2 linked regions of the Homo sapiens genome follow. The protein of the gene in region 2 purifies or fractionates together with the protein of the main gene of each other region. This does not show direct contact. Each region holds a gene or a part of one and is shown on either strand. Other genes may lie near its edges.

Region 1 (3,500 bases), on a different chromosome or scaffold from region 2:
TATTCAAAAACAACAATAGGCTGAGCACGGGGGCTCATGCCTGTAATCCCAACACTTTAAGAAGCTGAGGCAGGAGGAGCACTTGAGCCCAAGAGCTCAAGGCTGGAGTGAACTATTATCACTGCCACTGCACTCCAGCCAGGGCAACAAAGCAAGAACCTGTCTCAAAAAAAAAAAAAAAAAAAAAAAAAAAAGCAACAACAACAATAAGAAAAACAACAGCAACAAAACTGCCAAATGGCTGCGGTTACTTCATTTCCTGTAGCTATAAGAAAAAAAAAAACTAGGAAAGTTATAAAATATGCTGATTTAAAACAACATACAGTTGACCCTTGAACAATGGGGGTAAGGGTATACCATGTATAACTTTTACTCCCCAAACACTTAATTAGTAACAGCCTGATGCTAACCAGAAGTATTATCAGTAACAGTCGATTAACATATTTTATATATGTATTCTATACTGTATTCTTACCATAAAGTTAGAGAAAAGAAAATGTTATTAAGAAAATCATAAGGAAGAAAAATATATTTACTATTCATTAAGTGGAAGTGGATCATCATAAAGGTCTTCATCCTCAATGTCTTCAAATTGAGTAGGCTGAGGAGGAGAAAGAGGAGGGGGTTGGTCTTGCTGTCTCAGGGAAGGCAGAGGCAGAAGAGGTAGAGAAGGTGGAAGGGGAGGCAGGCACACTCAGTTTAACTTTACGGAAAAACATTGTAATTTCTTTTTTGCTTTTTCATTTCTTTAAAAATATTTCTATACAAAACCAATCCTTCTTTCATCATTTGCTTCAGTTTCAGTGCCTGTATCACACAATGGTCCATGTTGTACAGTAAGTCTAAAGCAGTCTTGAATAATCAGAACCCTTCTGCCAGATTGTCTACAGTCAATTTGTTTTCTGGCACTACTTCTTTGCCTTCTTCCTTATCGTCCAACGCTGGTTTGGAAGCACCGGCATCTTCATTAAATCATCTTCTGTTGATTCCTCTGGTTGATGTCTATTAGCTCTTGTCTTATCCACAGTCTCTTTCATAAATTCCTTGACTGGCTCTGCTACAAATCCTGTGAAATCATGCTCAACATCGGTACACAGTTTTCTCCAGCAGGAAGTTACTGTTTTGTGCTTGATGGCTTTCATGGCTTTTTCTATAACGATGGCATCTTCAGCGGTGTAATTCCTCCAGATTTTCATGATGTTCTATTGAGGTTAGAGTACCGTGTGTTATTAACCTTAAAGGTCCTCATGATCCCCTGATCTAGATGCTGAATTAGAGACTGTGTTCGGGGGCAAGTAGACCACTTCAATGTTTTCGGTGTTAAACTCATGGGGTTCTGGGTGGCCAGGGGCACTGTCCAACATCAAAAGAACTTTAAAGGGCTGTCCCATAATGGCAAGGTATTTCCTGATTTCAGGGACAAAGTATTGATGGAACCAATCCAGAAAAAGGATTCTCAGTGTTCAGGTCTTCTTGTTGAATGATCAAAAAACTGGCAGCTTCAAAAGACTTTTCCCTTCAGGTCTTGGGGGTTAGCAACTTTATACGTAAGGGCAGTCAGTCCTGATCATAAACCCAATTGCATTTGCACAGAACAGTAGTTAGCCTATCCCTTCCTGCCTTAATTCCCTGTGCTTTCTTCTTTTCCTAACACTCATGTCCTTTGTGGCCTGCCCCCCTCCCTGCCACCCCGAGAATAGGACACTTTTAACTGCATTAAAGACTTGTTCAGCGGTGCCCAGGAACTTGTCTGCTGTGTCTTAGTCAGCAGAAGCTGCTTCTCCTGTTAGCCTGCCATTTTTAGGCCAAGCCTCTTTCTAAAATTATCAAACCATTCTTTGCTGGCATTAACTCCTCTAGCTTCTCTTCCGTTTTGCTTTAAGTTGTCATATAATAACTTCACTTTTTCTTGAATATCATAGTCTACAAGTATGCCCTTTTTTTTTGTTTTTTTTTTTGAGACAGAGTCGCTCTGTCGCCCAGGCTGGAGTGCAGTGGTGTGATCTCAGCTCACTGCAAGCTCTGCCTCCCGGGTTCACACCATTCTCCTGCCTCAGCCTCCCGAGTGGCTGGGACTACAGGCGCCCGCCACCACGCCTGGCTAATTTTTTGTATTTTCAGTAGAGACGGGGTTTCAACGTGTTAGCCAGGATGGTCTCGATCTCCTGACCTCGTGATCTGCCCGCCTTGGCCTCCCAAAGTGCTGGGATTACAGGCGTGAGCCACCGCGCCCAGCCTACAAGTATGCCTTTCTTATAGCAATCCTGTACCCACATAAGAGCTGCATTTTCAACATGAGATAAAAAGGTATTCTGTAAAAAGTGCAAGGTTTCACACCTCCTGCTGTGGCTGCAGTGATGGCTTCACAAATTTTCTTTTATTTAAAATGGTCCTTATGCTGGATTAATTTATCTTGAAATAACGGGCAACCACAGCTGCAGACCTCATTCTACAGTACATATTAAGCAATTCAATTTTTTCTTGTAATGTCATGACTTTTCTGTTTCTCAGGATTGCTTCTGGCATCACTAGTGGCACTTTGTATAGGTCTGATGGTGTTATTCAAGGTTTATGGTATTGCACTAGACACGATGAAAACACGCAAGAACCACAAAAGACCTCTTTTGATTGCAATATGGGATTTACTGGAGACACAAACTGTTCACGGGGAGATGATCCACATCACATGGTGTTTTAAGCAGACACTTGGAAACATACGAGCTCACCAAAATAGCAACAGGAGGTGGCTACAAAATTATCACAGTAGTACAGTATGTATTAGTTATTTTTATGCAATTATGATTTAATACTGCATCTCTGTTACATTTCTCTTGATGCAAAAGGTGCCTTGTATGGGCTCTGTGTGTTTGAGTGTTAATAAATTTAAACTTTTAATAATAGATCTGTGTATGTTTTATGGTAGTAATAAAATAGACTAGTATCTACATATACTTTAGACATTCATAATATACTTAACTTTTTCTTAATTTCCCCCCCGCCCAATATTTCTAGGTTATGTGGCTTGTCTGTGAGTTTTTCAAGTTGTTGCAAGTCTCTAACATTTTTTCCAAAAGATTTGTTTTTAAAAACCTGTTTATAGAGCTGGGTGTGGTGGCACACACCTGTAATCCCAGCTTCTTGGGAGGCTGAGAAGGAAGAATCACTTGACCCCTGGAGTTTGAGACCAGCCTGGGCAACACTGCGAGTCCCCATCTCTTTAAACAAAAATATCCATGTGTAAGTGAACCTGCAGTTCAAGGGTCAATGACAGTTTAAAAGGGGGTAGACAAAGGTGGGATTAGGGAGGAAACAACTCTTTTGTTGCAAGGACGATACCCTTAGTAGAATCACAAGCTTAACAAAGAAAAATTATACCGCATGTGGTGGCTCACGCCTGTAAAGCCAGCACTTTGGGAGGCTGAGGTGGGTGGATCACATGAGGTCAGGGGTTCGAGACCAGCCTGGCCAATATGGCAAAACCCTGTCTCTACTAAAATTAC
Region 2 (5,564 bases):
TTTTATTGTTTCAGAAAGACATCATGGAGGGCAACATTGCTTATGGTACTGGAATCACTATGCCATGTATTGATGGCCCGCGTCTGCAGACAATGTCCTTAATATGATTTGATGTATGCAAACATCTGACTATTTCACCTTGTCTTCTCATGCAGTTTACATATACAAGTACATATTATCATTCACTATCCCTTTACTTCTTTTCTTTTGAGACAGAGTCATAGTCTATTTTTCCAAGACAAAGTATGCCTAGGTGACAATTTACTCATTTTAAAATTATCTTTCAGGTTTTTTGTTTTGTTTTTTCATAAAGTTTTTCCTAGCCATTAACAGTTTCTCTTTTTTTCTTTTTTCTTTTTCTCTCTTTTTTTTTTTTTTTTTTTTTGAGCCAGAGTCTCGCTCTGCCACCCAGGCTGGAGTGCAATGGTGCAATCTCGCCTCACTACAACCTCTACCTCCCAGGTTCCAGCGATTCTCTTGACTCAGCCTCCTGAGTAGCTGGGATTACAGGCACGCGCCATCACACACGGCTAATTTTTGTATTTTTAGTAGAGAAAGGGTTTCACCATGTTGGCCAGACTGGTCTTGAACTCCTGACCTCAGTTGATCTGTCCGCCTCGGCCTCCCAAAGTACTGGGATTACAGGCATGAGTCACCGTGCCCGGCCACTACTAAGGGTTTTTAAGGTGGCAGATGGAGTTAATTAGTAAACTGAATGAGCCTATAGTAAGTACCAGGAAGATCAGAGATAACTTCCAAACACCTCACAGCATTAGCAAGAAAAAGTGAACCTTTACAGATTTAAATTCTGGTCACTTACACTAGCAAGATATGAAAAACCACATGGAGTTACTTTACATAGTCTTAAAAATGGATAAAACAAATGTAATTCTCTCTTGAATGCTTTTGGTTTTGTGCCATTTTGAAGTAGAACATGAGGTAGTCAAGGAATTCTGTGAAATCTATTAAAATTCGCTGCATATTTCTCCACACTGTCCCGCCATCACCACACAACACCAGGTTTGTGCTTCAGGCCCTTCTACAACAATAGAGTAAGGGAGTAAGGTGGATGATTTTTTTTTTTTTGAGACAGAGTCTCGCTCTGTCGCCCAGGCTGGAGTGCAGTGGCACAATCTCCACTCACTGCAAGCTCCACCTCCCGGGTTTACGCCATTCTCCTGCCTCAGCCTCCTGAGTAGCTGGGACTACAGGCGCCTGCCACCATGCCCGGCTAATTTTTTGTACTTTTAGTAGAGATGGGGTTTCACCGTGTCAGCCAGGATGGTCTCGATCTCCTGACCTCGTGATCTGCCCGCCTCAGCCTCCCAAAGTGCTGGGATTACAGGCGTGAGCCATCGCACCCGGCCAAGGATGACATTTTTAACACTCACAAAGCAGGTAACAGGAATAGTTGTCACAGGGGTCCTGAACTGGCTGCACCCACCTGCTTGCAGGCAAACGACCACATGCAACCACCCAGAGCAGCAGTGATGTTGCTGAATGGACCACGAGGAAGAGGAAGACTGACAGGTGACAGGAAAGGACAGGACACCTGCCTGGCTGAGACGCCACCGCCAGGCCTGGGAGAAGAGGGGAGTTGTGTGAGGATTGGAAAGGAGGAGAAGGCATCTCTAGGGTGAGAGACGGCAGATGTGACAATACTGAGGTGGGAATGTGTCACTCTTCCACTCTCCAGTGAAGTCACGCTGGTTTTCCCTTCCCGTAAACACATTCTAAAGCACAGGCATCCCAGTCGTGACCTCCCGATCCAGTTCTCCTGACTCCTCCATCCTCAGTTCCCACAGAATGCTCGCCACTCCCATACTGACCTCATTCAAGACCATTCCCTGACCACATGCGCTCTGCATTTCCACGCATCGGCCCCACTCTTCCTTCTGCCCAATGAGGCAAGAGATGGGGACAGTCATGAGACCAGGGCTGGGGGCTGGCTGTGTGGGTGAGTAGCTGCCTCTGCCACCGACTTGCTGTTGAGCTGATGATGGGCAAGTTACTTAAGCCCTCTGGGGCTTCATGTCCTCATCTACGAAGTAGACAGGTGCAGCACCCACTTCACGGCGGTGCTATGATGACGAAACGTGCTGATGCATGTGGAGACCTCTAGAGCACAGTGCTCAGCTCATAAGTACACTCAGCTAATGCCGGCTGACAGTCGTGGTACTAACAGTAAGAGCAGCCTCACTCTTACTATTAGCCCTTCAAGGGCCAGATCAAGGCTACCCAGTTCAGAAACTTTCTCCTCATTTACAATAAAGATCCATTGCTCCTTCAAATTTAACTGCTTTCTAATTTGTATATTTCGATGGTGACCCTGATTTCATTCTGTCTTGAGTGTTTGCCTTCTAGGGACAATATCAGATTTCAGCGATTCCCCCATCACCCAGCCAGGAGGCACTTGATGTTTGGCTTGAATTGAGAAACCTGAAGAATATTGCGACACGGAGATTTACTCCGATGTCAAACTTCCTTCCTAGGGCAGGAAGCCCATATTCAAGTACAGCAGGAAGTAAGGACGGGCAGGGGGCAAGTGAGTCCTCACTGCAGAAAACCTCAGTCTTCAGAAATCCAAAAAGCATAGAAAAATCTGAGTCATTTTGGAATTTAACAGGAATCTTTGAAATTGTATGTTAATCATCTCACGCAGGAATTCACAATCTCATAGCTTGAATACGGAAATCTCCTAGGTCCATTTTCCCAGGATGACATTTATTCGGTCACTCCATCATTTGCTCAACAAGATCTTAAATGCTCTATGATGTCCCAAGCACTGAGTCAGGCACCGTCCTCACCTGCTCGGAGCTTAGATCCAGTCTCCTAACTCCCCTGCTACATTTTTGTAATGGTGCCTGTCTTTGTTTTACAGCACTCCATCGATCAGCCTGATTTTATCTGGCAATTAAAAATGAATAAATCCCACACCACAGCACCACCTGGAAGGAAACATTCTCCTACAGCCATGTGGAGAAGCCCCCCCGACACTCAGCCATCCTGTCTCTGTGTCACTTTTGGAGCCAGACAGTCTGGGCTCATACCCAGCCAGGACTCAGCCACGTGCTCTCAGGCCAGCTGCTTCATCTCTGGGAGACTGGCCTTCCTCCTCCGTGACATGGAGCCATCCCTGCTTCACAGGGCTGTTTGGGGAACTCACTGAGTCATCCAGGCACAGCCCTAGAGCAACAGCCAGAACAAAGCAAGCCCGACTCAAAAGGGTTTCTTCTACCCTTCCATCTCCCCTTCAGGAAGGCCCAAGAGTAGGAAGTTAAGCCACTGTTCTGGGATTGGGAGGGACGCGGGCAGCCATGGGGAAAACTTCAATCTAGGTGTTTCCATTGGTCTTTATCTGGTCATGCTGTATCCCAGTGGAACTTCGGCATCCAGACAAACACAGTTTGGTTACGGCATTGAGTGTGTCAGTTCAACACTGATTTTATTGGCCTCTATGTATCAAGCACGTGCCAGATATCGAGGATCTAAAAAGAAGTGAGACTCAATCTCTGCATTTAAGAAGGACCCATCCCAGCCAGAACATGGACACACAGACAAATAACTCATAACATGGTGGGATGAGTACAAAACCCAAGGATCAGAAGGCAAGAGTCACTCCACACAGGAGCAGAGAGGGCTGGTGGGACCAGGGAGGGCTTCCCAGGGAGAGACGTGTGGGACAGCTCCGCCAGGGGACTGAAATAGTCAGCCATGCACTAGGAGTTTGAAACAATGCCTGCTTGCTTTCCTCAGCCTAACAGCAAATCTTGACTTTGGCTTCTAAATCTGGTGAAAGGGGAAAAGTACAAGAAAAGTAAAACCAATGAAGAAAAGAGATGAGGAGGATGGGAAAGGGACACATTGTTTATTCTTAGGGGCCCCTATTTCTTTCATCCAATCATCTATTGTCTCTGAGCAGTCAGTCATCAGATCAAAGGAAATAAATGTTCAGCCCTCCCTGGTACGGGGGAAACGTCACCAGAGTGGAAATGCAGAGATCTGCGGTAGCATGAGTGCGTGTGAATGTGACTGTCATCACCACACACGCTTTCAAGGGAAGACTACAGAACGTTCTCAAAGCCCACAAGCCACAGCCCTGCAGGTCATTTCAAGCGGGCGGCAGCTCGCTCCTGTATTGTTTACCACAGCTATTTCCTTGAGAAGTTTCACAGCTTCAGCGTGCAGCCACCATGCTTTCTGCCTCGTACACAGGGGAAAAGTTGAGTGACTGCATTGTCCTTGAAATTTTACCTGAAAACCTCATGACTTTTTTGCTTGCATAGATTCTTTTTTTTTTTCTCTGAGACGGAGTTCGCTCTTGTTGCCCAGGCGGGAATGCAATGGCGCGATCTTGGCTCACCACAACCTCCGCCTCCCAGGTTCATGAAATTCTCCTGCCTCAACCTCCCGAGTAGCTGACATTACAGGCATGCACCACCATCCTCCGCTAATTTTGTATTTTTAGTAGAGACAGGGTTTCTTCATGTTGGTCAGGCTGGTCTCAAACTCCCAACCTCAGGTGATCTGCCCACCGTGGCCTCCCAAAGTGCTGGGATTACAGGTGTGAGCCACTGCGACCGGCCTGCTTGCATAGATTCTTTACGGAAGCTGATTACAGCCACAAAGGAAGGTGATGAATAAAGAACAGCTCTCAGCTCAGTTCCCTATTCATAGGCTTAAAAGACTCATTTTTGCAACAATGAGACAGCACGCATGCATATCCATCAGAAAGTCTGACACAGAAATGAAGATGTGCGTTTATACATTTTCTGTCTATCTTGTTACTCATTCAGAGGTGGGTTTTCTGGGAAGCGAATGACACCTCAACTTCAGAATCCTTTATTTGCACGGCCCTGTCCAAGGCCCTAGATGCCCTGTACCTGGTTCCCTCTTTGTTTTCCCAAAGTCTCCACAAGTTGTACAAGTTTCAGGTCCCTCAGATATCTCTACTTCACATTAGAAGACTCGGCTGGGTGCGGTGGCTCACGCCTGTAATCCCAGCACTTTGGGAAGCTGAGGTGGGTGGATCACGAGGTCAGGAGTTTTGAGACCAGCCTGGCCAACATGGTGAAACCCTGTCTTTACTAAAAATACAAAAATTAGCCGGGCATGGTGGTGGGCACCTGTAATCCCAGCTACTCGGGAAGCTGAGACAGAATTGTTTGAACCTGGGAGGTGGAGGTTGCAGTGAGCTGAGATCGCGCCATTGCACTCCAGCCTGGGTGACAGAGCGAGACTCTGTCTCAAAAAAATAAATAAGGCCGGGCGTGGTGGCTCACGCTTGTAATCCCAGCACTTTGGGAGGACGAGGCAGGTGGATCATGAAGTCAGGAGATGGAGACCATCCTGGCCAACATGTTAAAACCCTGTCTCCACTAAAAATACAAAAAAATTAGCCAGGTGTGGCGGCAGGTGCCTATAGTCCCAGCTACTTCGGAGGCTGAGGCAGGAGAATGGTGTTAACCCGGGAGGCAGAGCTTGCAGTGAGCTGAAATTGCAGCCACTGCACTCTAGCCTGGGCAACAGAGTGAGACTCTGTCTCAAAAAATAATAATAATAAA

The links.
Region 1: the proteins of SYTL3 (region 2) and RAB10 purify together in Homo sapiens (affinity purification with western blotting, with the first as the bait; one study listed by BioGRID). This does not show direct contact.

What each region holds. Positions count from the first base shown.
Region 1 is NC_000002.12:26,121,084-26,124,583, reverse strand, and holds part of RAB10 (ras-related protein Rab-10), read right to left. Parts: intron 1-3,500. UniProt on the Homo sapiens protein: The small GTPases Rab are key regulators of intracellular membrane trafficking, from the formation of transport vesicles to their fusion with membranes.
Region 2 is NC_000006.12:158,652,247-158,657,810, reverse strand, and holds part of SYTL3 (synaptotagmin-like protein 3), read right to left. Parts: intron 1-5,564. UniProt on the Homo sapiens protein: May act as Rab effector protein and play a role in vesicle trafficking. Binds phospholipids in the presence of calcium ions.